Linked DNA regions of Homo sapiens. The protein of the gene in region 3 binds, or shares a complex with, the protein of the main gene of each other region. Each region holds a gene or a part of one and is shown on either strand. Other genes may lie near its edges. A codon is read from its position in the direction of its gene.

Region 1 (8,583 bases), on a different chromosome or scaffold from region 3:
GGGAGGCTGAGGCAGGAGAATGGCGTGAACCCAGGAGGCGGAGCTTGCACTGAGCCGAGATCATGCCACTGCACTGCAGCCTGGTGACAGGGCAAGACTCCGTCTCAAAAAAAAAAAAAAAAAAAAATATATATATATATATACACACACACACACACATATACATACACACACACACACACACACACACACACACACATGAACTGAAATAGAGGTTTTCCAAGATAGCTGTAAAAATTAAATCAAGCAATCTGAGTAACAGAATTGGCATACAGCAAATATTTAAGAACTGCTAGCTACTACCAGGTTCCATTATTATAAGCAACCTATGCTTATAACTATACCAGTGGTCTGCAGCTTCTAAGCTGGTACCCAATGATTCCTGCCTCCTACTATTGCCCTTGTAATACCCTCTTTAGTGTGAGCTGGACATACTGACTTGCAACCAACAAAAAGAACATGGCAAAAATGACAGGATGTTGCTACCACTTTTAAGTTATAAAAGACTGATTTCCACCTTGCTCGTACTCTCTATGGCTCTTTTTGCTTACTCTCTCTGAAGAAGCAAGCTGCTATGCTGCTGTCAGCTGCTATACGCAGAGGCCCACATGGCAAGGAACAAAGAAAGGCTTCCAGCCAACAGCGAGCAAAGACCTGGGACTCAGTCCAACAGCCAATGAAGAACTAAATCCTGCAGACAACCATGGGAATGACTCTTGAGATTACGGCAGCCCAGGGAAACATCTGATTGCAGCCTTGTGAGAGTTGCTTGGCCAAAAGACCCAGCTAAGCTACACCCAGATTCCTGACTCACAGAAGCCGTGAGATGATAAATGTTGCTAGAGGAGTAATTTGTTACACAGCGATAGGTAAACAATACGATATATAACAACAATATGCTCCAGAAAAGCTTCTATGGACAAAGAAGGCAGTCTAGTAAATTTTAAAACAAAGCACAAAGGAATAAACCCAAATAGCATCATATCCAGTCCATACCTGTCCTCCTCTTGCCAGCATGCTAACCCATATAGTACTGGTGGGTCGGGAAGAATTCTCAAGACATGATCTACACTCTCCTGTGTAGGCATATTTAGAATCCTTTTTGGCAAACACATAAACTGTGTTTGTTGCCATTTTCTCTTGGGCAATCAGAACCTATTTGGACAATAAGAAAGTTACAGCCATAAAATCCAAAACATCACTGAAGAGAAAAGAGAGTAAAATCTGCATCTTAATTTAATCTGACCATATAGGCTCACTGAAATATTTAATTCTTCAACTTTACAAACTCCATTTTGCATAAATGCTTCATAGAAATACATAAACTCCAAAACTGACCAAATTCCCAGTGCATGTTATATACAGCTAAATAAAGCTTTGGTTTATATAAGTTTAGCTGTCATACCCTAAACAAGTCAACTGTCAGTGCCAGGTTATCCTGCAGGAAAATCTTTCTTTCTTTTTTTTTTTTTTTTCATTTCAACTTTAAACTAAATTTTAACTACCATTTTGTAATTTTTTAAAATAATGTTACTATACCTTTTCTGATCCATTAATAATGAAATAGCCACCAGGATCCAAAGGGCATTCATTTAACTCACAAAGATCACGATCTGTCAAGCCATTCAAAAGGCAGTAAGTTGACCGCAACATAATTGGAATTTTTCCTATAAAAGTTTTCTGATGCTGAGTCTGAAGTTGTTCTTCACCTTCTTTAATGACTGTTTTTGTTATATCAACATAAAGCGGAGCAGAATACCTTTGAAAATAAAAGTAGATCACAGTTAAGCAATAGGGTATCTGTTAAAACAAATCCTCAAGTGGTTAAAATTACATTTTCAAAATTCTATTTCAGTATCTACTGCTGACAAGGAAAAATTCTTTCTTACGTGAGATTCCTTAATCTAGCTTCATTGGGCATCATTGGTGAAGGAGCACCATCTCTTTCCCAATGGGTAGGCTTGGAAAGATAAATTTGTTCAAACTTCAGCAAATATCGTGGCTGAAATTAAACAAAAAAACATGAAAAGGGTAAATAATTTTTTCCATAAAAGTTTTAGTGATTCCATTTTAATTGACATTAACATTTTAAGTACAAGCAACTCTACAAACTGGCAAAATTAATCCATTTTACTGAAATGGGGACTTCCCAAAGTCAATATCCATATTGCATAGACGTTAAGTTTTAAACCAAATCACTTTCTTTTTTCCTCTTTTCTTAAAAATTTTTTTTCACATTAGACAGGTAATGTGCTAACAAGGTTTGTAACAAGGTTTAAGGAAGGCACATCTCACACCCAATCATCACACACTTATCAACTACAGAAGGATCTGCTAATTGCTTTCTTAAGGCAGAAGACAAAAAGAGACTTAATATACTAAAAGTAAAGACTGTACACATCATGTGCTCTGAGTTTATATGAAACAGTTAAAATGGATTTACATTAATGATCTACATAGTTTCTTGTGCCCTCTCCTTGGTAAGCATCATCAAAAATACAAAGTGACCAGAGAACAAAGATAACAAATCCAGACAACTAGAACTATGCTCTAATCTAATCAATAGAACATTTTAAAAAATAAACCTCTCTTCAGTTAAATATACAAATTAATCTGTCAAAGGAGTAGAGTTAACAAAAGAAAAAGATTTTTTTATTTTAAAAAACACACAAAATATCCTAATCATTCTATATAAAGGGCTGAGAATTTCCAACTCTGGCTGGAATATAGCTTAGTTCATAGAAAAAAAAAGAAATTTTTCAATTAAACATTCACTTGCTGCCTAATAAAACAAGATCCATGAGGACAACTTTCTAGAGATAAATGGATAGTGTACTTTTCTCTAAATCAAGTCTCAGAGAAGAAAACAGGAGTAAGCAGACGTTTTACTAATGATTAATTATTGACACTCAAGTCTCCCAAGCTGGGCTGGATAAAGGGCAAAGAGAACGGTGGTGATAACGAACCAAAGGGAAGCCAATCCTCTACTCCTTATCTGTGCCATCATCTAGTCTAGGTCATTATTATCTTAATCATAGGCTATTCTAAGATTTTTATCTCCTCCAGTCTCTTTTGTTTTGTTTCATTTTGTTTTGTTTTGTTTGAGACAGGGTCTCACTCTGTCACCCAGGATGGAGTGCAGTGGCGTGATCTCGGCTCACTGCAGCCTCCACCTCCTGGGTTCAAGTGATTCTCCTGCCTCAGCCTCCCAAGTAGCTGGGACTACAGGCGCACCACCAGGCCCGGCTAATTTTTGTATTTTTTGGTAGAGATGGGGCTTCACCAAGCTGGCCAGGATGGTCTCAAACTCCTGGCCTCAAGAGATCTGCCTGCCTAGGCCTCCCAAAGTGCTGGGATTACAGGCATGAGCCACCACATCTGGCCTCCTCTAGCCTCTTTCTATTCCAAGCAAGCATCACTTTCCAAAGTAACTTTTCTAAAATAATGCTTTATGTATATTCTTTGACAGTCTCTCAGTAATTCCTCATAACATCCAATGACATTCAAAGCTTTCAACAATCGGGTTCCATCTTATCTTCCTAATGCCTATTAAAAATAGAGAAGCCCTGTAATCCCAGCACTTTGGGAGGCCAAGGAGGGCAGATCATGAGGTCAGGAGATCGAGACCATCCTGGCTAATACGGCAAAACCCTGTCTCTACTAAAAATACAAAAAAATAATAGCCGGGCGTGGTGGCAGGCGCCTGTAGTCCCAGCAACTCAAAAAGCTGAGGCAGGAGAATGGCGTGAACCCGGAAGGCGGAGCCTGCAGTGAGCCGAGATCGCGCCACTGCATTCCAGCCTGGCCAACAGGGCGAGACTCTGTCTCAAAAAAAAAAAAAAAAATAGATAAGCCAAAATCACATACTGATCATTGTGGTCCCCAGCCTAAATACACCAAGTATTTTCTTTTCTTTTTTTTTTTTTTTTTTTTTTTTTTTTGAGACAGAGTCTCGACCTCTCGCCCAGGCTGGAGTGCAGTGGCGTGATCTCAGCTCGCTGCAACCTCCGTCTCCCACGTTCAAGCAATTCTCCTGTCTCAGCCTCCCTAGTAGCTGGGACTACAGGTGCCTGGCACCACACCCGGCTAATTTTTGTACTTTACTAGTAGAGACGGGGTTTCACCATATTGGCCAGGCTGGTCTCAAACTCTTGAGCTCAGGTGATCTGCCCGCCTCGGCCTCCCAAAGTGCTAAAATTATAGGCATGAGCCATCGCACCGGCCACACCAAATATTTCCTTGCTGAAATGACTAAGCACCTTTTCTCTTCTAAGAGAGTTCTTCATAGTAAATTTAAGTCTCTTCCATCTTTTCTACTAAGCTCTGATAACTAGGTGTTAGAGATCTACTCCTCTTTTAGTACTTCTGTTACTGGCACGTTCAATTTGCTATGTTATATTGTTATCTGGCTTGTTATACAAAGACCATGAAGAAAAAATGACCCAACAAGCCAGGTGCAGTGGCTCATGCCTATAATCTCAGCACTCTGGGAGGCTGAAGCAGGTGGATCACTTGAGGTCAGGAGTTGGAGATCGGCCTGGCCAACATGTGAAACACCATCTCTACTAAAAATACAAAAAAATTAGCCAAGCATGGTGGTGGGCACCTATAGACCCTGTAAAAAAGAAAAAAATGACCCAAGAATAAAAAAGAAACTTAATGTCCCCCTTTCCAGCACAGCCCTAGAAGAGCCAATCACTTTCATTCTTAACAGCAAAATTCTGTACAGCATGTCCAACTAAAATGGAAATAACAGACCAGCACTTAGGAGATAAGCTACACAGAAGAGAAACTGATCAGGCTAGAAACAATGAACTCTCCCTGTGTCTAGCTCTATTTTGGGGGCTTTCCCTACCTCACTTTGTTTCTCAGTTTTCCCTGTCTCTCAAAGTCCAATATGTTCCAACAGCTGCCTCTCAACTTCTCTAAAACTGGGACAGTCATTATTTTGGACTACATCCTTCTTATAATCACTCATGTAAAACCAAATTATAAAATTATACCCTTAGTATGATTTTAACAATGCTAAAAAACCTGCATATATGTGAGCAAAAGCTACAAGAAACTTAGTAAAGATAGCTGCTATGTTTGGGTGATTTTCCTTTCTTATCTCATATGGTTATAATAATGTACTTCATGCAATATATAAAATCAGATGAAAATTCCTTCAAACATTTTTTATTATTTTTACACTGTGAGAGAAAAAAGCGGGGTTATCTATCTAAAGCAATGTGACCATCTCTGGCTCACTTCTCTTATTTGTTCATATTTCAGAGTCCTCTCTTCCCAGCTATTCAATACCTACTATGTGAATAAGGATGGGATAACTTGCAAAAAAACACACCTCTTCATTAGAGAAAATAAATCAGAAAGTGATTGACGGTGCTGTAAGTACTTTGCTAAAAGCTCCAACTGACTTTTTTTAACCTTTAAGCCAGGTAAGAGAAGGGCTAAAATTTCAAACCAATACGCTTCTTGTACCTGTGTAACTATTAGAACTATCTTACCGGTTCTTCAACTTCTCCACTAGCATGCTGAGCTTCAGCCTGTAGGTCTATAGGAGGAGCGTCTTCCACAATTCTTTGAACAGACATCTGAATAAACTCATCAAAAGAATCCAGCTGTTGTCTAACCAAGCCTTTCTCGTCAAAATAGGAACTGGGAAAATATTTGAGTTCAGTCAGTTGCAACTCAGTGATAATTTCTAGCATAATTCCCCATTTTCATTATTTCCCCATTTTCATTATTCAAGAAACAGTCATAAAATACCAACCATTATATGTCAACCACTAAACAAGACACTATGAGGTATCTTAAAAAGGATGAAACCGGGCATATTTTCTTTGTAGAACTTATTATTTGGGGAAAAGCAGCTTATATTTGGGGGTAAAATACTTAAAGCACAATATAAGAACTATAAGGATCCCAGCTCCTGGGAGGCCAAGGCAGGAGGATTGCTTGAGTTCAGCCTGGGCAACGCAATGAGACCTCATTTCAACAAATAAGAAAAAAATTAGCCAGGCATGGTGGCATGTGCCTATAGTCCCACATATTCAAGAGGATGAGGTAGGGGGATCACTTGAGCCCAGGAGTTTGAGGCTGCATTGAGTCATGATTGCATCATTGCACTCCAGCCTAGGAGACAGCGAAACCCTATCTCAAAGAAAAAAAAAAACTTTATGCCCTTTATGGACAAATTTTATTCCACCTCTTTGAAGTACTTCTTGACAAATATGTCAGGAGAGAAAACTAAAGAAAAGTCAAAGATAACAATAAGAACTTTCATTTGAATAGGACGGAGGGTAGTGATATTAATGACTAAAATAATGCATGAGAATGCCAACTTTAGGTTATAGATCATTAGTTCTATTTTGAATTCTTAAAGGTAGGATAAGAAGAATAAGTCTTTACATAAAAATACTCAGCAAAAGACTGGTGATAAAAATGCAGCATGGCTGAGAGAGCTGCAATCTAAAAAGCAGACATCATATTTATAAGGAACAGATACTTTTCAGGTGAGGGGTGGGGAAAGACATACAGAGACAAGTAGATACACGTGCAAGAGGATCTCAACAGATCACTCCCTATTACCATCCAGGGACAGCTGCAAAGCTGGGCATCACAGAGGCTGGAGGATGTAGCACAACCCTCAAGATTATCCCATCACCCTTCAGCAGTAGGAAGTGCCCCACCACACCTCCACGTCTCCACTCCTATATCTTGTGACCTCTGTCATCTTATATCTGTGAGACCTTCTTAGCTTCTACTCCCCAACTACTGACTCCCCCATCTTCACATCAATTTTCTAAGACAATATGCAGAGTCCAACTAATCATCAGCCTCCCATTTTGGCTTCATCAGGTCACCTCGCACATCAGTGACAGGCCAACAAATTGGCCCCACCCTGATCCAGTCAAGTATGGCCACCAAAATTAGAAGTTAGGTCCTATGGTAGAAAACACAGCAGACAATCACACATGTGTAAGGTATGACCTAAATAACAGTTGGGGCAATTTATTTCAGTAGAGACTGTCACATAATGGGAAAGAAATTTCTCACAACCATGTGGATTAGCCATTGATATTGTAAGAAAAACATGGCATTGCCTGTAATATACATAGCCATGGTTTTTTATAGGCAATTTAAGATGAATAGCTTCTAAACTATAGATAAGTTTCATTACCCCAGGAAGCTGAACTATAGCTACTTTACCCAAAATCATTAGAATGGTGCTTAAACACCTAAACTATATAAATATTTCATATTTATGATCTCTACTCTGTTTATTTTACCTGAAGTCATCTTATGAAGTTACTTGTGATATTAACTAATATCACATTCACAAGATCACTTGATATTAAAAAGTAAAAAAAAATCAAAATTCATTTCTCAATAGCCAAAGTATCTACAGTCAATTTAAACTTAAAAATCAAATAATTTATTTTGTAACAAATGATAAATGCTATGACAGTTCACAATAGAGTATTTTATCCTTGAGCAATCTACCACATATGTTGAAAACAACTTCTTTTCACCTAAGATAAAATATTTTTTCTACCGGGAGAATGTAGAATATAGGCACACTCCACAGAACATCTACCTGGTTATTGTTTCCTAATAAAATATCTCTTGGTGTTTAACACCCAAACATCACAGAAGATGTAACTGTCTCAGTAAAGTTTAGTCTTCTACAGCCAATTTGTTTTATTTTTTGTGTTTACAAAAGTTTACTCTTAAATGGCTCCAGGACAATGCTTCATTCTAGCTATAGGTGGCAAAAGATATTATGGCAGGGAATACAGATGTTTAAATACAAATGGAATCAAAGGTCACCATCACCTCAGGCACAATGAAAAGCTGACTTTTTGCCAGATTTCTCTTTTTTTCTTTCTTTAAAAAAAAAAGAGATAGACAGGGTCTGGCTATGTTGCATAGGCTGGTCTCAAACTCCTGAGCTCAAGTCATCCACCGGCCTCAGCCTCCCAAAGTGTTGGGATTACGGGCAGGTGCGAGCCACCTCGCCAAGACTTTTTGTCAAATTTCTTAATTCTACCTGTGGCCAGGGGCCCTTTCCCCACAGCCTTCTATTTTAAAGCTTTTTCTGCTCCTCTTTTTGTTTCTGCTTGAAAGCTGTATCTTCCTCGTCCATCTCCTTGGCCTGCTTCTTGGGCTGTTTCAGGGGCTTCTTGCTACCTTTGCAACCAAACATGGCAACTGCCGCCCCGGCCCCTTCTCCAAACCCTGCCACCAGAAACAGAGCTCCTATCCTCACCATCAACTCCTTATGGAAAAATATATACTTATATCCCAAAAACTCAATATATATTTTTTAATTATTTATTTTTAGAGACAAGGTCTCACTATGTTACCCAGGCAACACTCAAACTCCTGAGCTCAAGTGATCCTTCTGCCTCAGCCTCCCAGGTAGCTGGGACTATATAGGCACACACCACAGCACCTGGCTTTCAATACTTTTTTTTGTAAGATTCTGGACAACATGCTGAATCAACATCTTTTTTTTTTTGAGACAGAGTCTCACTCTGCCACCCAGGCTGGAGTGCAGTGACATCATCTCAGCTAACT
Region 2 (8,583 bases), on a different chromosome or scaffold from region 3:
ATACTTGGAGTTCACAAAAGGAACCAAAATGTTACATTAGACAGTATTCACTTAATGCAAAAGAAAACAGAAAAGGGAAGACAGGAACTAAAACTACATGAGGCATGAGAAACAAAGCAGAGTGGCGGTGTGAACGTGAGGGGATTCAGAGCTTTAACTATGAGTGGATGGACAACTGGGTCAGAGGCCATCACCGTAGGAAAGCTGGAGTGTTCCGCTAATATCAGAGAAGACTGAATTTAAACAAAGAATGCTTCTACAGGTAAAGAAGGACGCTTTATAATGATAACGGATGGAATTACGATGCTAAGAGCTGGATCCATCGGGAAGAGTGACAGTTGCTAGCACATGTGCACCGGAAGTGAGAACCAACTCACCAGTGGCAGAAACTGACAAGCAAAGGGAGAGGCGGCCATGGCGAGACCTTGGAGGTTCCCCCGCCACTCAGTCATGGGGGGCGTCGTGGGAGGATGCTGCCCCTGGAGGGGCCACAGACCAGTCCTGAAGCTCTTACAGGAACGCAGGAGACCCTGGAGGGTCTTGAGGAAGAGCAGGCCAGAGGACGCACATCGTGCTTCAGAGTAACGGAGGCTGGTGTGATGACAGTGTGCTGGGCCGTGGAGCAGGAGTGTCCATCCCAGAACAGCCCCATGTCCATGGCCAGCTGGCTCTCAGCAGGGGTACCAGGCCACTCCATGGGAAAGACTTGTGGGTCCTGAGAGTGGGGTGGGGAATCAGAAGGTGCTCCTGGGATTAGGAGGTGTCCCCACGACATGTAAGTTCATGTGAGTTTCAGGCTTTTCCAAAGCAGTTGTAATGACTGTGGCATGGATAATTTTTGTGGGGAAGATGAGTGGTCAGCACACATACGTGTTTGACTGGATTGTGCGTCCCTCCCATGCGCGTTCTGTCCCTGCGTCCCTCCCGTGCGCGTTCTGTCCCTGCGTCCCTCCCGTGCGCGTTCTGTCCCTGCGTCCCTCCCGTGCGCGTTCTGTGCCCGCGTCCCTCCCGTGCGCGTTCTGTGCCCGCGTCCCTCCCGTGCGCGTTCTGTCCCCGCGTCCCTCCCGTGCGCGTTCTGTCCCCGCGTCCCTCCCGTGCGCGTTCTGTCCCCGCGTCCCTCCCGTGCGCGTTCTGTCCCCGCGTCCCTCCCGTGCGCGTTCTGTCCCCGCGTCCCTCCCGTGCGGGTTCTGTCCCCGCGTCCCTCCCGTGCGCGTTCTGTCCCCGCGTCCCTCCCGTGCGCGTTCTGTGCCCGCGTCCCTCCCGTGCGCGTTCTGTGCCCGCGTCCCTCCCGTGCGCGTTCTGTGCCCGCGTCCCTCCCGTGCGCGTTCTGTGCCCGCGTCCCTCCCGTGCGCGTTCTGTGCCCGCGTCCCTCCCGTGCGCGTTCTGTGCCCGCGTCCCTCCCGTGCGCGTTCTGTCCCCGCGTCCCTCCCGTGCGCGTTCTGTCCCCGCGTCCCTCCCGTGCGCGTTCTGTCCCCGCGTCCCTCCCGTGCGCGTTCTGTCCCCGCGTCCCTCCCGTGCGGGTTCTGTCCCCGCGTCCCTCCCGTGCGCGTTCTGTCCCCGCGTCCCTCCCGTGCGCGTTCTGTGCCCGCGTCCCTCCCGTGCGCGTTCTGTGCCCGCGTCCCTCCCGTGCGCGTTCTGTGCCCGCGTCCCTCCCGTGCGCGTTCTGTGCCCGCGTCCCTCCCGTGCGCGTTCTGTGCCCGCGTCCCTCCCGTGCGCGTTCTGTGCCCGCGTCCCTCCCGTGCGCGTTCTGTCCCCGCGTCCCTCCCGTGCGCGTTCTGTCCCCGCGTCCCTCCCGTGCGCGTTCTGTCCCCGCGTCCCTCCCGTGCGCGTTCTGTCCCCGCGTCCCTCCCGTGCGGGTTCTGTCCCCGCGTCCCTCCCGTGCGCGTTCTGACCCCGCGTCCCTCCCGTGCGCGTTCTGTGCCCGCGTCCCTCCCGTGCGCGTTCTGTCCCTGCGTCCCTCCCGTGCGCGTTCTGTCCCCGCGTCCCTCCCGTGCGCGTTCTGACCCTGCGTCCCTCCCATGCGCGTTCTGTCCGTGCGTCCCTCCCATGCGTGTTCTGACTCTGCGGTCTCTTCAGGGTTTGCCACTCGAGGGTGTCGGAGGTGGAGGTTGTGTTCGTTCTCCCTTCACATAGCACGCGGAGTTTTGGTTTGTGAAAGTTTGCTTTTTCGTGTTTTCATAGCTACACAAACTGCATCTCTTGGAAAAGTGAGAGCGTTTTGACAACTGCTGTCACTGTGAACAGGTCAGGAGGCCCTGCCTTGCCCACCCCATACTTAGGGGCTTAAGAAACAAGGTCTCACTCTGTTGCCTGGGCTGGAGTGCAGTGGCACGATCATGGCTCACTGGAAGCTTGAACTCCTGGGCTCAAGGGATCGTCCCGCCTCAACCTTCCAAGTAGGTAGGACCACAGGTGCGCACCACCATGCCTGGCTAATGTTTTTAAAATTTTTTTGTAGAGATGGGGACTTCCTTTGTTGCCCATTGAGACCAGCCTGGCCTCAAACTCCTGGCCTCCAGCGATCCTCCCGCCTCAGCCTCCCAAAGTGCTGGACCTACAGGTGTGAACACCGTGCCCACTGTGCCTACCGTGCCTAGGGGTGTTAAAGTGGTCCTTGGTGCACAGGGCTAAAGGCTCCTGGTCGCGTGACTTGACCGTGTGCTGCCAGCCACTCTGGTGCCTGCAGTTTAGAATTTGGGTACAAAGCTGCTGAATCAAATAGTGTTTTTTAATGATTGCCCAATTTTAAATGAGAGACATTAATTTTTTTCCAGTCCTTTCATACCAATACACGAAGCAGCAATTCTTACCCTAAAATAGGTCACTGAACTTCCCACTTTAAAGAGCCCCGGCCTGGCAGCAGGCTCTCGGAGGGGAGGGTCAGGTGTGGTGAGCGCCCGGCCAGCTCCCTGCTGGGAAGGGCCCCTGCCCCTCTTCCACCTGTAACACACACAGGTTCATTCTAATGCCATGAGATTGCTGAGGAGAGCATGACAATGTTCACACCCAGAGCTGTGGCATCCCCGCTGGGGCCCTGCGGGAACTGGGACTCAGGTGCAGACGCCACGGAGGGAGGGCACCGCTGGCTCTCCCTGGGCCCGGGCCCACTCTCAGCAGCAGACCAGCTCTTGCCGCCTGCTTTCCTTGGCAGAGCCCAGCCCTGTGTTGTAGGTGGTTGGACTGTTGGGTCCCGCTGACGTCATCTGGTGGGTTCCTTCCAGGTCCCCGCGGAGCCCCCCACGCTTGTGTGAGGCTTCACCTGCTTTGGGCAGCCCCAACGCCGCTCTCACGCCACGTTCCACTCCAGGGTGCACTGGGGAAATTATCCGCCATGCGCAGCGCCTCCTGCAGGTGTCCGGTGCGTGCAGACCTGGCCACGCCGGCACGGGTTTTTTAGTGACGTGGCGGCCTCACGGTGAGCAGCACTGGTCTTCCCTTTTGTTCCCGCGGCCACGCTGGCAGTGGCCACGGGAACCCTGTGCCTGTGGATTGTTCCATCCCCTTTGGATTAGATGCTGGTGTGACACAATTGTGCATTTGCCGCACTGACGGATATCTTTCCGGTGCCAAATCGTGTGCACTGTGACAGCCCAGTGTGTTTGGAAAACTGAAATATGGGGGTGGGGTATACATATATATTATTCTGTTTGTATTCTTGCCTTATTCAATGTTGAATTTGAGATAAATGTTAAAGCTGTAAATTTTCCCCAAATTCTATCTGTTAACATTTCTCTATGGAGCTGTGCAGCTGGTTGTATGAACAAAATACAAATATTGCATGTTATGCTGAGGAAGTGAAGCTAGTATCAGTTGCGGACATTTACTAACCATAGTCTGCAGCTGTGTCTAATGTTCGAGGTAATTTTTAATGACTAAAGTCCATTCATCTCGTATTTTTAAATCCCATGCTCCAAACATCGTTTAACTAAGAGCAAAGGTTTTGTGCCACCTTAGTGAGGCGCTCCCTGTACTTCATCACGGAGCGAGACCGAGGGTGCAGCATTCGCAGCACCAGGAGGGACCGCGCAGGGCCTGGGGGGACCCATGGAGGGAGGGCCGCCCCAGCCCGGGCTCTGTGACCCCTCAGGGTGGAAGCCGTTGACCTGGTCCCAGACACTCAGCCTCATGGAAGCCCTGACCCTGTCTCCCGAGTCAGCTACGTTTTTCCAAAGTGCGTGGAGGACGTTTCTCAGCATTCTTACCAGCATCGTGAGGTCCAGGCCCCTGCTGTGAGATGGGGATGGTGGCGCCTGCCCGCAGGTTTCTTGTGAAAATCTAAGGAAGAAGCACTTAGCACAGCCCCAGACCACAGCGTCCCCAGCTGTGGATCCACAAGAAACTGTTCCCAGCGAATGCCATGAGCGCCTGCGGCCGCCTCATCTCACACAACAGCGACAGAGTCATGATCAGAGGCCTTTAGAGTCATCATTATCATGTCTGTGTGTGAGCCGTGACTGCCTGGGAGCCGTGTCTGCCTGGGAGCCGTGACTGCACATGAGCCGTGTCTGTGTGTGAGCCGTTCTGTGTGTTTGCCGTGTCTGTGTGTTTGCCGTGTCTGTGTGTGAGCCGTGTCTGTGTGTGAGCCGTGTTGGTGCATGTGCACAGGGCTCTCCAGCGGGAGCTGAGGTGGTCCCTTCCGTGGGCTCGGTTCAGGTCCTGTGGCACCCTGCCAAGTTATGCTGGCGTTTCTGAAGGTGTGTCCTGCTGTCAACAGCACTCTGGGTGTTTTTGTCGGCCTTGTGAGGGGAACATATTTCTAAACCTCAAACAGAGAGTCACAGCTGGCATTTCCCATTCTTTGCCATCCTCTTGCTGCCATTAGAACTCTGCCACGGATGGCTTCCTCGCTTGATTTTAGAAAGAAAAGAATTGTTGGAACTGGTTCTTGCACCTCTCGCCCTCCCCCTCCTCTCCCTGCTTGCCCCAGGGTCCCGCCTGGCTCTCGTCTGCCCCGTCTTCACTTTCGGTCGGGGCCCCTGCCCCTGCCCCTGCTCTGCTCAGTGCCCCTGATACGTCCAACCCAGCGTCGCTGTGAGGGAGTCAACCACACCTGCCAGCACCCCCGAGTCTGGCCCCACTAGGAGGGGCCAGGGCTCCCTTGAGCAAGGCATCAGCACACAGGCAGGGAGCCGGGCACCAGACTGTGAGGGTCGCGCCCCGTGCACACGAGATCCAGGCCCGCCCCCTCCTGGACTTGGTGACCGTCCCGAGCTCGACCTGAGAGGGCACTTCGGCTCTCCTGTTCACAGTCATGACTGCCCCCTCCCCGAGGTCAGCGCCATGCACTGCTCTGGGGGCCTGAAACACCGCCTCTGTTCGCAAGGGTCTCCTGTCCCGTCCACCTGCCAGTGGGTTGAGCTCTTCCAGGGGTTCGGGACACCCCTCACGGCAGCACCTTCACGTTTACGAGAACTGTCTCTGTCTTGTTTTGTTTCAAGTTCTCAAAACGGAGTGAGGTGGAGGAAGCCTAATGGGAGGATGGGAGCCGGGTTTTCCCGGAACAGCCGTCAGCGTGTATGCGGAGGAAAAGAGATGACTGATGAATTTGTTAATTGCCAAAAGCTTGTTGCTGTAGCAACCGGAGGCCAGACTCGTGGCCCTGACAGCGTCGTTAGTGTCAGCAGAGACTGGAAATAAAGGAAACTCGTGTATGATACGCCTGGCGTCCTCAAAGCAAACAGCAGGCGGTGCCCAGCCCAACACAGGCACGGGCACAAGATCTGCAGATGAGGCATGGAGGGGAAGCGGGCGGTGCCCAGCCCAACACAGGCACGGGCACAAGATCTGCAGACGAGGTGTGCAGAGGGGAAGCAGGTGCACAGAAAAGGTGCGCGGAGATTTTTTTTTTTTAAGACAGGGTCTTGCTCTGTCGCCCAGGCTGGAGTGCAGTGTTGCGGTCATGGCCCAGGCTCACTGCAGCCTCCATTTCCTGGGCTCAGAGGATCCTTTTTCCTCAGCCTCCCAAATAGCTGGGACTCCAGGCATGCACCGACACTCCCAGCTAATTTGCAACCCCTCACTCTCATGTAGCAATTAAAAGTAAGCCTTTATTTCTCAGTAGAAAATATTCATTCCAGTTGACATAAAAATAAATTCGTTTAAAACTTGGACGGCAGGTATTAGGGCGTGCACTTCCCGCTACTCTGCCTTTTTTTTTCCCCCCCGAGACAGAGTCTCGCTCTGTCACCCAGGCTGGAGTGCAGTGGCGTGATCTCAGCTCACTGCAACTTCCGCCTCCCGGGTTCAAACAATTCTCGTGCCCCGGCTTCCCGAGTAGCTGGGACTACAGGTGCCCACCACCACACCTGGCTAATTTTTTGCTTTTTTTTTTTTTTTTTTTTTTTAATGTGGAGATGGGGTTTCACCATGTTGGTCAGGCTGGTCTTGAACTCCTGACCTCAGGTGATCCGCCTGACTTGGCCTCCCAAAGTGCTGGTATTACAGGTGTGAGCCGCCACGCCCTGCCTACTCCGCTTTTAAATGATGGGATGCATTGCTTTTTAAGAAAGGATCTCATGGATCCAGGGGTCCCAGTATGTGATGAAAGATGGCAGTTCCCATCTTACAGAGCGGGCTGGACTCAGAGGCAGGCCGGGGAGGGAGGGGCTGGGTACAGAGGGCAGGCTTGGGAGGGAGGGGCTGGGCACAGAGGACAGGCTGGGGAAGGAGGCACTGGGCGCCGAGGGCAGGTCAGGGAGGGAGGGAGGCTGGGCACACAGAGGGCAGGTCAGGGAGGGAGGGAGGCTGGGCACACAGAGGGCAGGCCAGGGAGGGAGGGGCTGGACTCAGAGGCAGGCCGGGGAGGGAGGGGCTGGGTACAGAGGGCAGGCTTGGGAGGGAGGGGCTGGGCACAGAAGACAGGCTAGGGAGGGAGGGGCTGGGCGCAGAGGACAGGCCGGGGAGGGAGGGAGGCTGGGCACACAGGGCAGGCCAGGGAAGGAGGGGCTGGGCACACAGAGGGCAGGCCAGGGAGGGAGGGGCTGGGCACAGAGGCAGGTCCAGGAGGGAAGGAGGGAGCGGGGGAGGGGCTGTCATCCTACGGCCCAGTGCCTGCCACCTGGACAGGACTTGGAGTTCTGGGGCCCTTGTGTTTCTCTCATGCGGTATTTCCTGGACCACGAACAGTTGGGTTCTCTGAACGAGCTTGTCGTGACTGATCGGCTGTGTGTGCCAGCCCACGGGGTTCTCTTGTCTTCTGTTGGTTCCATCTGATCAGCTGATTTTATTCCTTTTGTCTCTTATAAATGAACTGTGATTCTTCTAATACCAGCAAGAATGGTTTCAAGTTATTTCTGCGCTATAGTTTGTGTATATTAGCCTCGAGTGCATGTGTGTTACATGCGTGCTGTGTGTGCGTGCAGGTGTATCACATTACCGTGCTATAGTTTGTGTGTGAGCCTCGAGTGCATGTGTGTTATATGCCTGCTGTGTGTGTGTGTGGCTGTATCACACATAATGTGTCACATAGGTGTGTATGTTAGCTACATTGTATCTACGTTAGCTAAGAAAATATTCTTAGGGTACTCACATATGGTGACTGTCCCTAGTTTCTCTCAGTGACTTTTCGGGATTGTAACTGAAGGCTAGTATGGCTCAGTTGCCCCTAATCAGGGTAAAATCAAAACAGGCTGTGCACATTTAACCAGGCTTCCACCTCTAAGGTTGTAGCTGAGGTTCCTTGGCGCAGTGGGACGTCCCAGCACGGCACCAGGAGGGAGGGTGTCTGGCAGGACATCAGGTGGTTGGAATTTCAGGGCTCTGGGGATCTCCTGGGTGTGCCCCGATCAAGTCGGCTCACGTCACAGAAACCAGGTGCACCTGCAGCGGCTCCTAAGGAAAACCTAGTGGCACTGGCTGGTTATGCAGAGGCTCGTAAGGAAAGCCTAGTGGCACCGGCTGGTTATGCAGAGGCTCCTAAGGAAAGCCTAGTGGCACCGGCTGGTTATGCAGAGGCTCCTAAGGAAAGCCTAGTGGCACCGGCTGGTTATGCAGAGGCTCCTAAGGAAAGCCTAGTGGCACCCGCTGGTTATGCAGAGGCTCGTAAGGAAAGCCTAGTGGCACCGGCTGGTTATGCAGAGGCTCGTAAGGAAAGCCTAGTGGCACCCGCTGGTTATGCAGAGGCTCCTAAGGAAAGCCTAGTGGCACCGGCTGGTTATGCAGAGGCTCGTAAGGAAAGCCTAGTGGCACCGGCTGGTTATGCAGAGGCTCCTAAGGAAAGCCTAGTGGCACCGGCTGGTTATGCAGAGGCTCGTAAGGAAAGCCTAGTGGCACCGGCTGGTTATGCAGAGGCTCGTAAGGAAAGCCTAGTGGCACCGGCTGGTTATGCAGAGGCTCGTAAGGAAAGCCTAGTGGCACCGGCTGGTTATGCAGAGGCTCCTAAGGAAAGCCTAGTGGCACCCGCTGGTTATGCAGAGGCTCCTAAGGAAAGCCTAGTGGCACCGGCTGGTTATGCAGAGGCTCGTAAGGAAAGCCTAGTGGCACCGGCTGGTTATGCAGAGGCTCCTAAGGAAAGCCTAGTGGCACCGGCTGGTTATGCAGAGGCTCGTAAGGAAAGCCTAGTGGCACCGGCTGGTTATGCAGAGG
Region 3 (5,676 bases):
TACATTGTTCCAATGGAAACAGTATGTTTTGTCATTAAAGAAAAATACATCTATAAATTAAGATAACAAAAGATCTGGCTGGGCACGGTGGCTCACACCTGTAATCCCAGCACTTTGGGAGGCCAAGGTGGATCATGAGGTCAGGAGTTCGAGACCAGCCTGTCCAACATGGTGAAACCCTGTCTCTACTAAAAATACAAAAAAAAAAAAAAATTAGCTGGGCGTGGTGGCAGGCGCCTGGAACCCCGGCTATCTGGGAGGCTGAGTCAGGAGAATTGCTTGAAGCCAGGAGGCGGAGGTTGCAGTGAGCCGAGATCACATCACTGCACTCCAGTCTGGGCGACAGAGCGATACTCTGTCTCAGAAAATAAAAAAATAATAATAAAAAATAGCAAGAAACCAGTGTGACTGGATTGGGGCCAGACTCTGAGTCCGAGGGAGGTGCTGAGACTCCAGCAGCACATGGGGACCTGCTCTTTGAGGGACTCGGGGCAGAACGGGAAGGCAGGAAGGGCTGGCTCTATCCGTGTGGTTTCAGGGAGTCCTGTGCCACAGCCCAAGTCCCCGGGGGCCACATCACCTTGAAGGCTATGTGGGTGGTGCCCTGGGGCTCGCCCCCTGCAAGCACAGATGCAGGGTGGTGCCAGGCCCGGCATGAGCCCCCCTGTGCCTGGCCCGCAGGAGGAACAAGGTGCTGAACCACTTCAGCATCATGCAGCAGCGGCGGCTCAAGGATCAGGACCAGGACGAGGATGAGGAGGAGAAGGAGAAACGTGGCCGCAGGAAGGCGAGCGAGCTGCGCATCCACGACCTGGAGGACGACCTGGAGATGTCGTCCGATGCCAGTGATGCCAGTGGTGAGGAGGGTGAGTACGGGCGCCTGGGCATTAGGTCACAGAGGTGCCTGCTCAGGCAGTGCCAGTGAAGGCAAAGTCTACCATCGCTCACAGTGGCCCTAGAATGAGAGGCAAGTGGGGCCGGGCACAGTGGCTCACGCCTGTCATCCCAGCACTTTGAGAGGCTGAGGCAGGCAGATCACCTGAGATCAGGAGTTTGAGACCAGCCTGGCCAACACAGTGAGACCGTGTCTCTACTGAAAACACAAAAATTAGCTGGGCATGGTGGTGCATGCCTCTAGTGCCAGCTACTCGGGAGACTGAGGCAGGAGAATTGCTTGAACCCGTGAGATAGAGGTTGTGTTGAGCCGAGATCACGCCACTGGACTCCAGCCTGGGCAACAGAGAGAGACTCCGTCTCAGAGAAAAAAGAATGAGAGTCAGGCGAGGCCGCCTGGAGGAGCAGTGATGTCAGTCAGGAGGCAAGGCCAGAGCCCGGGAGAGCTGAGCCATGGCCCTTCTTTTTTTTTTTTTTTTTTTTGAGACAGGATCTCTCTCTCTCTCACATGGGCTGGAGTGTAGTGGTACAATCACAGCTTACTGCAGCCTTGACCTCCGAGGGTCAAACGATCCTCCCACCTCAGCCTCCTGAGTAGCTGGGACTACAGGCGTGCACCACCACACCCGGCTAATTTTTTTTTTTTTTTTTGGAGACAGAGTCTTGCTCTGTTGCCCAGGCTGGAGTGCAATGGCGCAATCTCGGCTCACTGCAACCTCTGCCTCCCAGGTTCAAGTGATTCTCCTGCCTCAGCCTCCCAAGTAGCTGGGACTACAGGCATGCACCACCATGCTGGCTAATTTTTGTATTTTTAGTAGAGATGGGGTTTCACCATGTTGGCCAGACTGGTCTCAAACTCCCGACCTCAGGTAATCTGCCTGTCTCGGCCTCCTAAAGTGCTGGGATTACAGGCGTGAGCCACCACGCCCGGCCTAATTTTTGTGTTTTTTGTAGAGACTGGGGTCTCACTCACTGTGTTGCCCAGGATGGTCTGAAACTCCTGGGCTCAAGCCATCCTCCCGCCTCAGCCTGCCAAAGTGCTGGGATGACAGGCATGAGCCACTGCACCTGGCCTGGCTGTGGCCTTTACGGGGGTTCCTATGAGAAACTGCAACTCTAGGTTGACCAGTTTCAATAACTCCTGTGCGCTCCGGGCTGTAGGGGCTGTGTCCCTGGTTATCAGGTGCCTCGCCCGGGTGGTCTGGGAGAGGGGGAGTGGTCTGTGAGCGCTAGAGAAGGTGGGTGGGGGTGTGGGGTCTGCCGGGAGTTTGTTTAGGAGAGCTGAGCTCCTGGGCTGGCCCTGGAGGTGTAGTCTCCCCAGTCAGTGAGGCCCCCCAGGATGTCAAAACTGCACAAAATGTGAAAAACACAATAAATACCCACTGCCTTCCTCCTCACTTTCCCTCCTTTCCTTCCTTTCCTCCCTTCCCAGGGGGCAGAGTCCCCAAGGCCAAGAAGAAGGCGCCGCTGGCCAAGGGCGGCAGGAAAAAGAAGAAGAAGAAGGGTTCAGACGACGAGGCCTTCGAGGACAGCGATGATGGGGACTTCGAGGGCCAAGAGGTGGACTACATGTCAGACGGCTCCAGGTGAGGCCGACGGGAGGCGCCTGCGAGACCCCATGCAGCCTCGCGAGCGCGCGCTCATCCTTTGCCATCCCCGTCTTACAGTAGCTCCCAAGAAGAGCCTGAGAGCAAGGCCAAGGCGCCGCAGCAGGAGGAGGGGCCCAAGGGTAGGCGATGGCTGGGCGGGCCGGGGAGATGGGGGCGGTGCTTCCCTGCTCTTGCTCATACCCTGCCCCTCCCAGGTGTCGATGAGCAGAGCGACAGTAGTGAGGAGAGTGAGGAGGAGAAGCCGCCTGAGGAGGACAAGGAGGAGGAGGAGGAGAAGAAGGCACCCACCCCGCAGGAGAAGAAGCGCAGGAAAGGTGCGGCGCATGTGGCCCCCATATTGGAGGCTTGGGTCGGGCCCTGGCGCCCTGCCACCTCCTCCCCTCTCCCCTGCAGGCCTCCCTCATCTGCAGTGGAGGCACCAGTGGGCACCGGGTCCCGGGGTTGCTCTGGCCCTGACCCCTTTCCTGTGCCCCGCAGACAGCAGCGAGGAGTCGGACAGCTCAGAGGAGAGCGACATTGACAGCGAGGCCTCCTCAGCCCTCTTCATGGCGGTAAGGCCCAGCCCGGTGGCGGGGGAGGCCTGGGCGTCTGTTTGCAGACTCACCCACCTCCCAACCCTGACCTCTGCAGAAGAAGAAGACGCCACCCAAGAGAGAGCGGAAGCCGTCGGGAGGGAGCTCAAGGGGCAACAGCCGCCCAGGCACGCCCAGCGCAGAGGGTGGCAGCACCTCCTCCACCCTGCGGGCGGCTGCCAGCAAACTCGAGCAAGGTGAGTGCCCGTGGCCTCCCCGCTCCCCACAGCCACAGCCACAGCCTCCTGACCTCTGTTGGGGCTCAGGACAGAGAGGGGATGGAGATGCGGGTGGAGGCCTGTCTCTCCCTGATCCCCTTGAACCCTAATCCTGGCACTGCCCAGCCTGGGGTCCTGCCCAGGGGTTCTGCCTCCTGCCTGCAAGACTCAGCCCTGACCCCACTCCCACAGGGAAGCGGGTGAGCGAGATGCCTGCAGCCAAGCGGTTGCGGCTGGACACGGGACCCCAGAGCCTGTCTGGGAAGTCGACACCCCAGCCACCATCAGGCAAGACAACACCCAACAGCGGGTAAGTTGACGAGGACAGCAGGGGGCAGGGCAAGGGCTACTGGGGACAATCTCACTGATGCCACCTTCCCCGTCCTCCCATCCTCAGCGACGTGCAGGTGACTGAGGATGCCGTGCGCCGCTACCTGACACGGAAGCCCATGACCACTAAGGACCTGCTGAAAAAGTTCCAGACCAAGAAGACAGGGCTGAGCAGCGAGCAGACAGTGAACGTGTTGGCCCAGATCCTCAAGCGACTCAACCCCGAGCGCAAGATGATCAACGACAAAATGCACTTCTCCCTCAAGGAGTGAGGCTTGGTCCAATACATGGCTCTGCCCCCCAGAACTTAAGGCTCTCACTGCCCCTTCGCCATCCTAGAGTGAGGCTCTGTCCAATACATGGCTCTGCCCTCCAGAACTTCAGGCTCTCAGTGACCCTTCGACATCCTGCTTGCTCCCTGACTCCCAGGGCCCCGTAGTTAGCAATTCTGGAAAAGTTAAGCCATCTCCTCCTCTGGCCCTTCCTTCTGGAATCTTCAGATGCCTGTTAGGCCTTCTTATTGTCCTCCTCCTCCTGGCTCGGCCTCCCTCACACTGACCAAGGGCCTGTGCTGCCCACTGGGTAACTTCTACAGTTCTCCCTTCCACTTCCCTAAGTCTCTCTTCAGCTGTGACTTATCCACCACATAGCCCAGTAAGTCTTCAGTTTTGGCTGGGCATGATGGTGAGCGCCTGCAGTCCCAGCTACTTGGGAGGCTAAGCCCAGTTCAAGGCTGCAGTGAACTATGATGGTGCCACTGCATTCCAGCCTGGGTGACAGAATGAAATCCTGGCACAAAAAAAAAAAAAAAGTAGCCAGGCATGGTGGCGGGAGCCTGTTGTCCCAGCTGTTCCGTAGGCTGAGGCACGAGATTCACTTGAACCTGGGAGGTGGAGGTTGCTGTGAGCTGACACCACGCCACTGCACTCCAGCCTGGGTGACAGTGAGACTCTGTCTCAATAAATAAAAAATAATAATAAATTGCTCAGATTTCTTTGTTTCCTTTTTAGATCTGCTACTCTGTTTGGATAATGTCTTATTCCTTATGTTTTGGTCCCATCTTTCATGGTTTTATTTTTATTTATATTTTAGGTTTTGAGACAGGGTCTTGCTCTGTTCACCAGGCTGGATTGCAGTGTCCACCGTCTTGGCTCCCTGCAACCTCCACCTCTTGGGCTGAAGCGATCCTCCCACCTTAACCTTTCAAGTAGTGCACACCACCACGCCCAGCTAATTTTTTAATTTTTTGTAGAGGTGAGGTCTCACTGTATTGCCCAGGTCAGTCTTGAACTCATGGGCTCAAGCAATCCTCCCACCTCAGCCTCCTGAGTAGCTGGGACCACAGGCGTGTACCATTAAATGCCTGGCTAATGTGTTTTGTTTTTGTTTTTGTTTGAGACAGAGTTTCACTCTTGTTGCCCAGGCTAGAGTGCAGTGGTACAATCTCGGCTTACTGCGACCTCTGGTTCCTGGGCTCAAGCAGTTCTCCTGCCTCAGCCTCCCGAGTAGCTGGGATTACGGGCGCCCGCCACCGCGCCTGGCTAATTTTTGTATTTTTAGTAGAGACGGTGTTTCAGCATGTTGGCCAGGCTGGTCTCGAACTCCTGGCCATAGGTGATCTGCCTGCCTCGTCCTCCCAAAGTACTGGGATTACAGGCGTGAGCCACTGCACCCACCCACGCCTGGCTGATGTTTTTATTTTACTCATCCTGACTGAGGTCTGACAATCCTAGAAGCTGAAGTTCCCGGGCATCCTTTTGTTTCTTCTGACTCCCCTTAGTGATAGATTTTCTTGTGATTTGGGATTGGATGCTCATGGCCAGCTGGGGGCTCTGTGGGAATCCGGGGTGGCCTACTTTGCAGGCAGTCCTTCCAGATGGTTCAGCCTTGGCTTTCGCTAGCTACCCAGGAGCGCCAGCCCCAGCCCATTTTGTGTGTGGTTCTCAGCTTGCAGGTGGCCACCAAAGCCAACCCCCCCCACTGCCCCGATTGTGGGTCCCTATGTTTGAGGTTCCCGGTGATGTTTCGGGGGGCTTCTCCCTTCTTACAAGC
Region 4 (8,583 bases), on a different chromosome or scaffold from region 3:
GGGCAACATAGTGAGATCTTGTCACTATTTCTTAAATTAAAAAAAAAAATAAAAAAATAAAGAAACTCTCTGTGAGTATGGCAAAGGGAAGTTCTTGAAGGATCTGATAGAAGCTTCAGGTCAATTAGGCAATATGCCAAGAGCAAATCCTGGAGGAGAAGACAAAGTATGTGTAGATCCTTGTGTACAGAATGACCAAATGAAGTTTTATCTGTATTTTCAGGGAATAGTTTGTGACTTTTTGGCCAGTTTCTTAAAAGGTAAAGGCTCTAGATTGAACACTAAACCTGGTAGAGAGGAAATGTGTTAGGTAGAAGAATGAAATCGTTGCACATGTTTTCTTTTCTTTTCTTTCTTTTTGTCCATTATGATTTTTCCCATCATAGAACCTAAGGTGAAATGAGAAAATAGAAATGGCTAAACAGAAAAGGATTGTCAATTGGCGTAATGGAAGAAGGAAGGACATTTCAAGAAGTGTGGAGAGTTGGGATAACTACTAAGACCTTCGGGCGTTGCCGGTTCTTTTTCTTTATGTAGGATTGGACAGATGGAAAGTTAGGCTTTTCTTCTTTGGGGGATTGCATCTATGTATCTCACTGTTGTAAATGAATTTATGTTTTGTATGTTATTTAAGAATTTATGTTTTATATGTTGCAGAAAATTTTGTATTTTCTATTTTTATAAGGAAAAAGTTCCATATAAAAATAGTTTAGTAATGGTTTTGCTATTATAAAGGATAATCTTTGATTACTAAAGAAGTTGCTTGTATGAAACTCATCGCTTAATAATAACTGCTGATTAAGGAATTACTATAGAAAGTTCATTGGAAGATAAAAAAAAGAAACAAAATCTTCAGTACTCTGATGTGGCAAAAATGAGGTTTGATACTTTAAAATTTTGTTTTTGTTATTGTTTCACTTGGGTTAGAATTACAGATTTGTTGTATTTCTGTGTCTGTATCAGTTTTTAAAATGGAATAACTTTATAAAGAGATTAATAAAACTGTTGTATTCATCTGTCCAGAGTTATTTTTCACTTAGAAATCTTTAATGTTCTTTGCCTTAGTTATGGGAAAACAAACTAATGCAGTCCAGGGCAGTAGATGGATTTCATTCAGAAGAGCAGCAGCTTCTACTGCAAGTTCAACAGCAGCATCAACCCCAGCAGCAGCAGCATCACCACCATCACCATCATCAGCAAGCTCAGCCTCAGCAGACAGTACCTCAGCAAGCGCAGACCCAGCAGGTTCTTATTCCTGCATCACAGCAAGGTGAGACTGGACTTGTTTTCCTACTTATGACTTGGAAATTAAGTTTGTCATTATGAAAGAAGAGAAATATTCTGCATTTTTTGGATCTTGTCTTTTAAGGGGCACATGGAGAACCTAAAAATAAACAAAAACCCCTCTGTTGATTTCGGGCTTTTTCCCCCCTTTCTCTTGGCTGAGGGATGTGTATGTAAATGTATATAAATTTGTATACAATGTAGGTTGTATCTGTAGAGTAATGGTAGACAAGTAATTTACTAATTGAAAGCCTAAGATATTCAGAGAAGTTATATTAATATTTTGTTTTGAAAAGGCTATATAGTGATGGATTTCCTAAGTTAAATCTAAAAGGTTTATTTACTAAGGGATTTATTATTTTATATGGTACAATAGTTATTTGCTTTCTCTATAAAACATGTTCTTTCAAAGACATGTTTCAGATTAGTTTTTAAAATATATCTTACATTCTGGAGTTTTTTGTATACTTTGGCAATCTGAAAATTCAGCTCCATAGGAATTTATGTAAGCCTAAATGGACTGAATTAGATTTATTTTAAGTTAAGAGTGGATATATAACATATCTTAATTTATATTACTTGGATTAAAGCTAAGAAAAAGCAAATATTCATAGACTGTGTCCATAGTGCCTTGTACTCTGCAAGTCATTTTATAGATACTGTTTCACTGGCATCTTATAAGGGCTTTGTAAAATAGCCCTTGGCTCAGTTTTACAGCTGAGGAAAATCTGAGCCCAGAAAAGGCTAAGAAACTTGATCTGTATTTTCTCTCATGACAAACATCTATTCAGTTATAAAACTTCCTGAGCATTCTAATTCAGTGCATCTGCTTTTATGGGAGAGGACACTAGAAGTAAATGAAAAGTTCATTTTAATATCATTTAGTTACTCATTTGCCTCATTTGACAGTATATATATGTGTCTTAAAATTGGTAATGACACACAGTAGAAGAGTATTTGGGTTATTTTACTGTTGATATCTAGTGGTACTTTTCATACCTAATTTTAATGTGTACTTTGTATCAAATAATTTTATCCTTTTATTCTTTTTTGATGACTGTTCTTCCTGTTGCCTTCAGACCTGGCATTAGGATTTTAGGTCATCATAAATTAAAATTTGATTTTCTTCACTCAGAGAATATTAGGATAATGGAGTTATCTGTTCTCTGAAATTTGCGGAATCAAACATGTAATTCCTTTTACGCTTAAGTAACATTGCCATTATTTCTGATTTGTATTTTTTCCGACTTTTGCCGGTTTACCACTCTTCAGGCAACCTGGTGGTCCCCTGCTTTCAGGAGGCCACCATATTGATGCCGAACTTATTTGGACACCTGATCAGCATAGCACATACAGCCCAGAACTCCTGGGCTCAAGTGATCCTCCCACCTTAGCCTCCTGAGTTGCTGGGACTACAGGCATGCATCCCTGCACCCGGCTGATTTGTATTTTTTAAACAGCTGATGAAAGTGGCATGAGTCTGTCAGCTGTCATATTTGGAAGAAAAGGACTATGTAGATTTCAAAAACTAGTCACAACTTTTTGAGCTTACTTTTATTGGATTAGTAACTCATTGTAACAGTGGTATCATTGTATCAGTAAAACAGTTAACCTTGAGTTAAGACAAAATTATGTTTGAAAATGTCCAGTTTACTTAAGAATGCATAGAACTATTTATGTTTAGATGTTAAGGTAACTCACTACTTCATGTTCCTAAATTCCCTTGCATCCTTAGGAATTGCCACTTAATTTTTTTTTTTTGATATGGAACCTTGTCACCCATGTTAGAGTGCAGTGGCGTGATCTCAGCTTACTGCAACCTCCAGTTCCGGAGTTCAAGTGATTCTCATGCCTCAGCCTGACACCCAACTAATTTTTTTGTATTTTTAGTAGAGATGGGGTTTCACCATATTGGCCAGTCTGGTCTTGAACTCCTGACCTCAAGTGATCCACCCGCCTTGGCCTCCCAAAGTGCTGTAATTACAGGTGTGAGCCACCACGCCTGGGCTTAAATATTTTTTAATGTTTTCTAGTATAGGGTGGGTATATCACAGCTGTTATTTGCCATATACATTTATAATGTCCTGAGATGAAATGATTGAAAGCATTTGAGTGCAGAAAACATGAAAAACATGAAAAAAGTTTTCATCATTGTATGTAAAGTGTTCTTGTGATTATAAAATAGCCTCATGGTTCCTTGTTTGCATGTTCGCTTGTTTTTTTGTAGCCACAGCACCACAAGTTATTGTTCCAGATTCTAAGTTGATACAGCATATGAATGCATCAAACATGGTAAGACTCAGAATGTAGCAGTTTGATTGGCTGTACTTAATTCTAACCCACATTGTAATTATGCCTATATATGTCCTATATTAACTACTTGAAGTTTATTGAAGACTCAAGCAAAACAGCTGTTTTAGTTTCCTGAATATTGGATCTGAAGTTTAGCTTGGTACCTAGACATTAAGGTTCATAAAATTACGGAATTGTTTAAGAATACCAAAAGAATGGTGCTTTGTGAGAGTTATTCCATTCCCTACTATTTCCGAAAAAGTTTTAGGGTACCTACCAAGCTTATAATGCCAAGTATGGTTCTGTTTCAGGAGACCTAGTAATTGCAAGAGGGTGGGAAGGCTAAGAATTGTGAACTTTTAAAAAATGAAGATAGACTGGATAGTTCAGTATAACTATTTTTAAAATCAAGCATTTAAAAATATTACTCTGACTTAACCATAGTATAGTCTAATAAGTCATTATAGTGTGTAAATTACCACAGAATACATTTTAACCAGCTGAGTTATATTAGAATTTTTATATTTCTGAGGACTATCCACTAAACTTTACAAGTCCTCACTCATATTTTCAAATTACATTTCAGACATATAATATTTCTCAACAAATGTAGTATAGGTTAACTGTAAACTTGAAAGAACCTCTTCAGATCCTTAGAAAATCTTTACCTATATCCTTGAAGTTGTTTTTTGTTTTTTTTTTTTTTTTGGATAAAACATTAAAATATAGTCAGATTAGAGTAGTTCAATACTTCCTTATAAATGGTTTTTCTTTATTCTGTTTAAAATATACAGACTGTTGATTTCATTGAGTGGTGACTCAGCTCTTACATTTCATTCTTCAGCCAAAACTTTTATTTAAAGGTGAAAGAATCAATATTTGTAAAAAGATCTTTTAACCTATGTAACTAGTTAGTACTAGAAATGAGATTTTTTTTTCCCTCCGTTCAAGTTTTTTTTTTTTTTTGAAGATGGAGTCTTACCCTGTCACCCAGGCTGGAGTGCAGTGGTGTGATCTTGGCTAACTGCAACCTCCGCCTCCTAGGTTCAAGTGATCCTCCCACCTCAGCCTCCTGAGTAGCTGGGAGTACAGGTGTATGTCACCACACCTGGCTAATTTTTTTGTACTTTTAGTAGAGACAGGGTTTCACCATGTTGGCCAGGCTGGTCGCCCAACTCCTCACCTCAAGCGATCTGCCCACCTCGGCCTCCTGAAGTGTTAGGATTACAGGTGTGAGCCACCACGCCCAGCCTCAAGTTTTTTTTTAAACCAAAAAGCAGTGTATGAAAAGATGAGTTCTACTTTGTGAGTGATACTGAATCACAAAGTTCATTTGTGGTTTATAAGCCAGATAAGAAGGGCTTACCCACTAGACAGATGACTTCCTCCTACACATTACCAGCCTCACAAATTCATACTGTGGCAGAATTGAAAGTTTCTACATGATAGTAGAAATTGCAGTTTTTAAATTCACAAATATCGAGGATCTCTGTTTGTACTTGTAGTTGCAGTTTCTAGAATCTTTTCGTTTACATGAAAATAAAAAATTTCATGCCTGTTATTTCTCACAAGATTTTTTATTGGAAAAAACTCCATTTTAAGTCTAAGGCCCCAATTTTTTTTAACCTCCACCCTTAAAAAAAAAAAAGTCTCACTATATGTTGCTTATTGTAGTTGATGTTATTAAGACTATATCCTAGGGAATAACTCACATTATTTTAAAACAAATTTTGGCAGAGTCTCTTGTGGTAGGCCCCTCTAAAAGAATTTTAAATGTTGTGGAAGAGAATTTTGAATTAGTAAGTTATTTCTGGGATAAAAATTAGTGGTCCATCTCTTACTTACTGGTTAAGTCTCCTTTATTCTAAAGAGCATATGTATTTAAACAAATCATAGGTCAGTTACTCAGGAAAATTGATTTAACATTTCTGTATATTTTACATTTTACTTTGTTGTTTTTAGTCAGTGTTTCCTTCATGTATTTCTGAACATAATCAGTATAGGCTCTGTACCAATAAAAGTGTTTTAGGTTTTTGTGGGTTTGCATTATTCTGATTTAGAAATAGCAAAAATATATTTGTTCTTTCTAATGGCTCTGTTTGCATTAGAAATGAACTAATCATAAAAACGTGAGATAATATAGTAGAAGGCTATTTCAGGGAACTTCTAGAAAACCATTGTTTTCGGTTCTTTTTTATGAAATGATTGGTCTAATGCATTATTTGTGTTTGGGCTGTTTTGTGGAATACAAGAAGAAATTTTAATAGTTATTAAGTATAAGGTGGTTAGTGTATGGTACATGACTCAGCAAATATATGTTATGCAGCTTGAATTTGTGGAGGGTGTGCAGGTAGTTATTGGGTCGTGTATTCTATATGGAAACTACTATGTCAGTTTGCTGGTAGAGGGAGAATTGCTGTCTTTCAAAATATGAATTATAGGCACTTAATATTTCTAAATATTTTTGTTTTTTTCTTTTTAAATATTTCTTAATAGTATGTGGTGGTTAATATTTTCCTTAAACTTAGATAACCTTTAATTTGCTTATATAGCCAAGTTTTATTTTAAATTGGGTAATTGAGTATCCAACTTAAATACGAATCACCCGGGTGGGCTATAGTTAAATTCTGGAGACACAGTGGGAATTTCAGGCCCAAGATGTAGAAATTACTTAGGTTTGTCAAGTGGCAACAAGTGTATTTTCTTGGAAAGCTATGTACCTAGAGCCCAGACTAGACAGTAGTTGAACTATTAACTCAGTTTAATAATTTTCTAAGTTTGTTGACTTCTCTGACACTAGCATTTCCAAAGCAGTTATATTTATTTTTTTAAGCTTTTTCAGATATGGGTAGTTCTAAAACTGTATAGGTTAGATTGAATGTATGAATGGTTGGTAGCTAAAGAAGATTGAAAAGAGAGGGAAAAAACTACCAAAATGTGTAGCTATAGCGGGATACAGGAAAATACTTAAAGTGCAGAATAAAAAACCAGAGAATGGCATAATTCTTTGCGGGAGGACAGGAGGAGAAAACTCTCCAGAACTCTCCAGGAAGTCAAGAATTTGTCCTGGATTTAAAGAAATTCATAATATAATCCCGTCTATATCTTTATAACTTAAGTGTCACATACTAACTTGATTTCAAAATGTTGAAACTAAAGTTTGTGACTATTGCCCAGGCTGGAGTGCAGTGGCACAATCTCGGCTCACTGCAACCTCCACCTTCAGGTTCAAGCCATCCTCCCACCTCACCCTCCCAAGTAGCTGGGACTACAGGTGTGCACCACCCTGCTCAGCTAATTTTTGTATTTTTTGTAGAAATGGGATTTCACCATATTGCCCAGGCTGGTCTCAAACTCCTGAGCTCAAGCGATCTGCCCACGTGGGCCTCCTAAAGTGCTGGGATTACAGGCGTGAGCCAGTCTGCCTGGTGTGACTTTTCTTAAGATTTACAGATTTTTTGTATTAATCTGTTATTAATGCATGTTTCACCTAGAATATAATGCCAGTATGTCCCTTTTTTCTTTGCTAATATGACATCTTAGAAGAATTGTCAGCTGTACTCCCAGTGAAGTCTTCTGATACAGTGTTCTTTATAGATATCTGTTGATTTTAGTAGAAATTTTAAAAGTTAAGAATTCTAAAAAGTAGATAATTATACTTTTATCTCAAGGAAATGGGGATAAGGAAACAGTGGGAAAGGAAGCAATAATGAAATAGCCATTTCATATATTGTACAGCATTGTTAATGTGGGTATTGTCTAAAAATGTGTAGGTTAGATTGAGTATAGGAAGGCTTGGTACCTTAAAGAAGATTGATGGGACAAGAAGGAAAAAAAAACTGCAGTACCTGTGAGATTTACTTAGAGCACCTTCTCTAGGGGAAAAAACCCAATTATATTGTTGTATTTAACTGCTTAAAATAATTTAGTAGGTTGGAGGCTAGGTTGGTCAGTCTTGTACCATTTTATAAAATGGGATTTAGCCTTACTAGATTTTTTAAATTTTGGTATATTCTAAACAAAAAGTTTCATACACTATTAAAATATGCTAGAGAGAAACAGTATTATACATGTATGTGGTTTTGATATTTTTTCTTTGTTTTTTTCAGAGTGCTGCTGCTACAGCTGCTACCTTAGCACTCCCTGCAGGTGTGACTCCTGTTCAGCAGATATTAACAAATTCAGGTAATTAGGAATGATGGAACCATTTTAAAATGTAATTCAGAAAATTGTACTATCTAGCCCTTAGGTTTTGTCTTCTTTGAAAGACAGAAAATACTAATATTTCTTTTACCATTTGGTTTAGGTTATTAAAATAACTTTATTTGAGGGCTGTAACACATATAACTGTAATCGTTGTTGAGGATACAGTAAAGAAGATGAAAATTGTACTTGAACCTTTGATCTGTGCATGATAACCCTATTATTGAAGTATGATTATATAAAAATGCTTACTTAGTTTTTTACTGAACACATTTAACATGCCAAGTGAGTATTAAACTTCTTTGAACTTGTGATATCAAAGTAATTCCTAGAGCATATTAAGAGCAAATTTATTGTATGCTATTATTATACATAGTATCTCTTCATTGACAAAAGACCAATGTCTAGCTCATGTGTTTTGGCATATTGGTGCTTGAAAAATTTATTTACATGGATTTTAAGTGTTCCCTATAATCTTGATTATATAGTTATTATTTATTTTCTATTCTGTGTATGTTATTTTTGTTAATTTGTAAATTTGTGAAATTAGGGGCTTGTCTTGCTACATATTTTAATAAGATGTAATTTGCTTTTTAATCAATTCAAGATTCTGGGTTGTCTAAAGGAACATATTGGGGGAATTTGATTCTGTGTGAATTGTATGACAATGATGATAACTGGTTCTGTGAACTTTTATTGCTTTTACCAATTTTGAAGCAAAGTTCTTTGGTGCTTTGTTTGGTTCAAGATATTAAATGAGCTATTAAGCTTTTGTTCCTTTAAAGCTTTAAAAATGAACAGCTC

What was found.
Region 1: GTF2F1 (region 3) and POLR2B share a complex: the UniProt entries of both Homo sapiens proteins name them as parts of the TBP-based Pol II pre-initiation complex.
Region 2: the proteins of GTF2F1 (region 3) and CTDP1 are in contact, whole or in part, in an NMR structure (PDB 1ONV), measured with the Homo sapiens proteins. Residues at the interface, in NP_002087.2 of Homo sapiens: Thr470 (codon at 3,750), Lys471 (codon at 3,753), Leu474 (codon at 3,762), Gln478 (codon at 3,774), Ser486 (codon at 3,798), Thr489 (codon at 3,807), Val490 (codon at 3,810), Leu493 (codon at 3,819), Ala494 (codon at 3,822), Leu497 (codon at 3,831), Lys498 (codon at 3,834), Leu500 (codon at 3,840), Asn501 (codon at 3,843), Pro502 (codon at 3,846), Arg504 (codon at 3,852), Met511 (codon at 3,873), Phe513 (codon at 3,879); in NP_004706.3 of Homo sapiens: Ala946, Asp947, Met949, Ala950, Lys951, Ala952, Leu953, Glu954, Glu956, Leu957, Asp959, Leu960, Met961.
Region 4: GTF2F1 (region 3) and GTF2A1 share a complex: the UniProt entries of both Homo sapiens proteins name them as parts of the TBP-based Pol II pre-initiation complex.

Annotation. Positions count from the first base shown.
Region 1 is NC_000004.12:56,987,823-56,996,405, reverse strand, and holds part of POLR2B (DNA-directed RNA polymerase II subunit RPB2), read right to left. Parts: intron 5,659-8,583; coding exon 5,508-5,658; intron 2,332-5,507; exon of another isoform or gene 2,236-2,331; intron 2,003-2,235; coding exon 1,890-2,002; intron 1,760-1,889; coding exon 1,540-1,759; intron 1,156-1,539; coding exon 997-1,155; intron 1-996. UniProt on the Homo sapiens protein: Catalytic core component of RNA polymerase II (Pol II), a DNA-dependent RNA polymerase which synthesizes mRNA precursors and many functional non-coding RNAs using the four ribonucleoside triphosphates as substrates.
Region 2 is NC_000018.10:79,744,348-79,752,930, forward strand, and holds part of CTDP1 (RNA polymerase II subunit A C-terminal domain phosphatase), read left to right. Parts: intron 1-8,583. UniProt on the Homo sapiens protein: Processively dephosphorylates 'Ser-2' and 'Ser-5' of the heptad repeats YSPTSPS in the C-terminal domain of the largest RNA polymerase II subunit. This promotes the activity of RNA polymerase II.
Region 3 is NC_000019.10:6,378,501-6,384,176, reverse strand, and holds the end of GTF2F1 (general transcription factor IIF subunit 1), read left to right. Parts: intron 1-681; coding exon 682-866; intron 867-2,326; coding exon 2,327-2,480; intron 2,481-2,561; coding exon 2,562-2,623; intron 2,624-2,698; coding exon 2,699-2,818; intron 2,819-2,981; coding exon 2,982-3,055; intron 3,056-3,134; coding exon 3,135-3,273; intron 3,274-3,486; coding exon 3,487-3,604; intron 3,605-3,691; coding exon 3,692-3,896; 3' UTR 3,897-4,605; downstream 4,606-5,676. UniProt on the Homo sapiens protein: TFIIF is a general transcription initiation factor that binds to RNA polymerase II and helps to recruit it to the initiation complex in collaboration with TFIIB. It promotes transcription elongation.
Region 4 is NC_000014.9:81,196,587-81,205,169, reverse strand, and holds part of GTF2A1 (transcription initiation factor IIA subunit 1), read left to right. Parts: intron 1-1,065; coding exon 1,066-1,270; intron 1,271-2,335; exon of another isoform or gene 2,336-2,475; intron 2,476-3,511; coding exon 3,512-3,576; intron 3,577-7,685; coding exon 7,686-7,761; intron 7,762-8,583. UniProt on the Homo sapiens protein: TFIIA is a component of the transcription machinery of RNA polymerase II and plays an important role in transcriptional activation. TFIIA in a complex with TBP mediates transcriptional activity.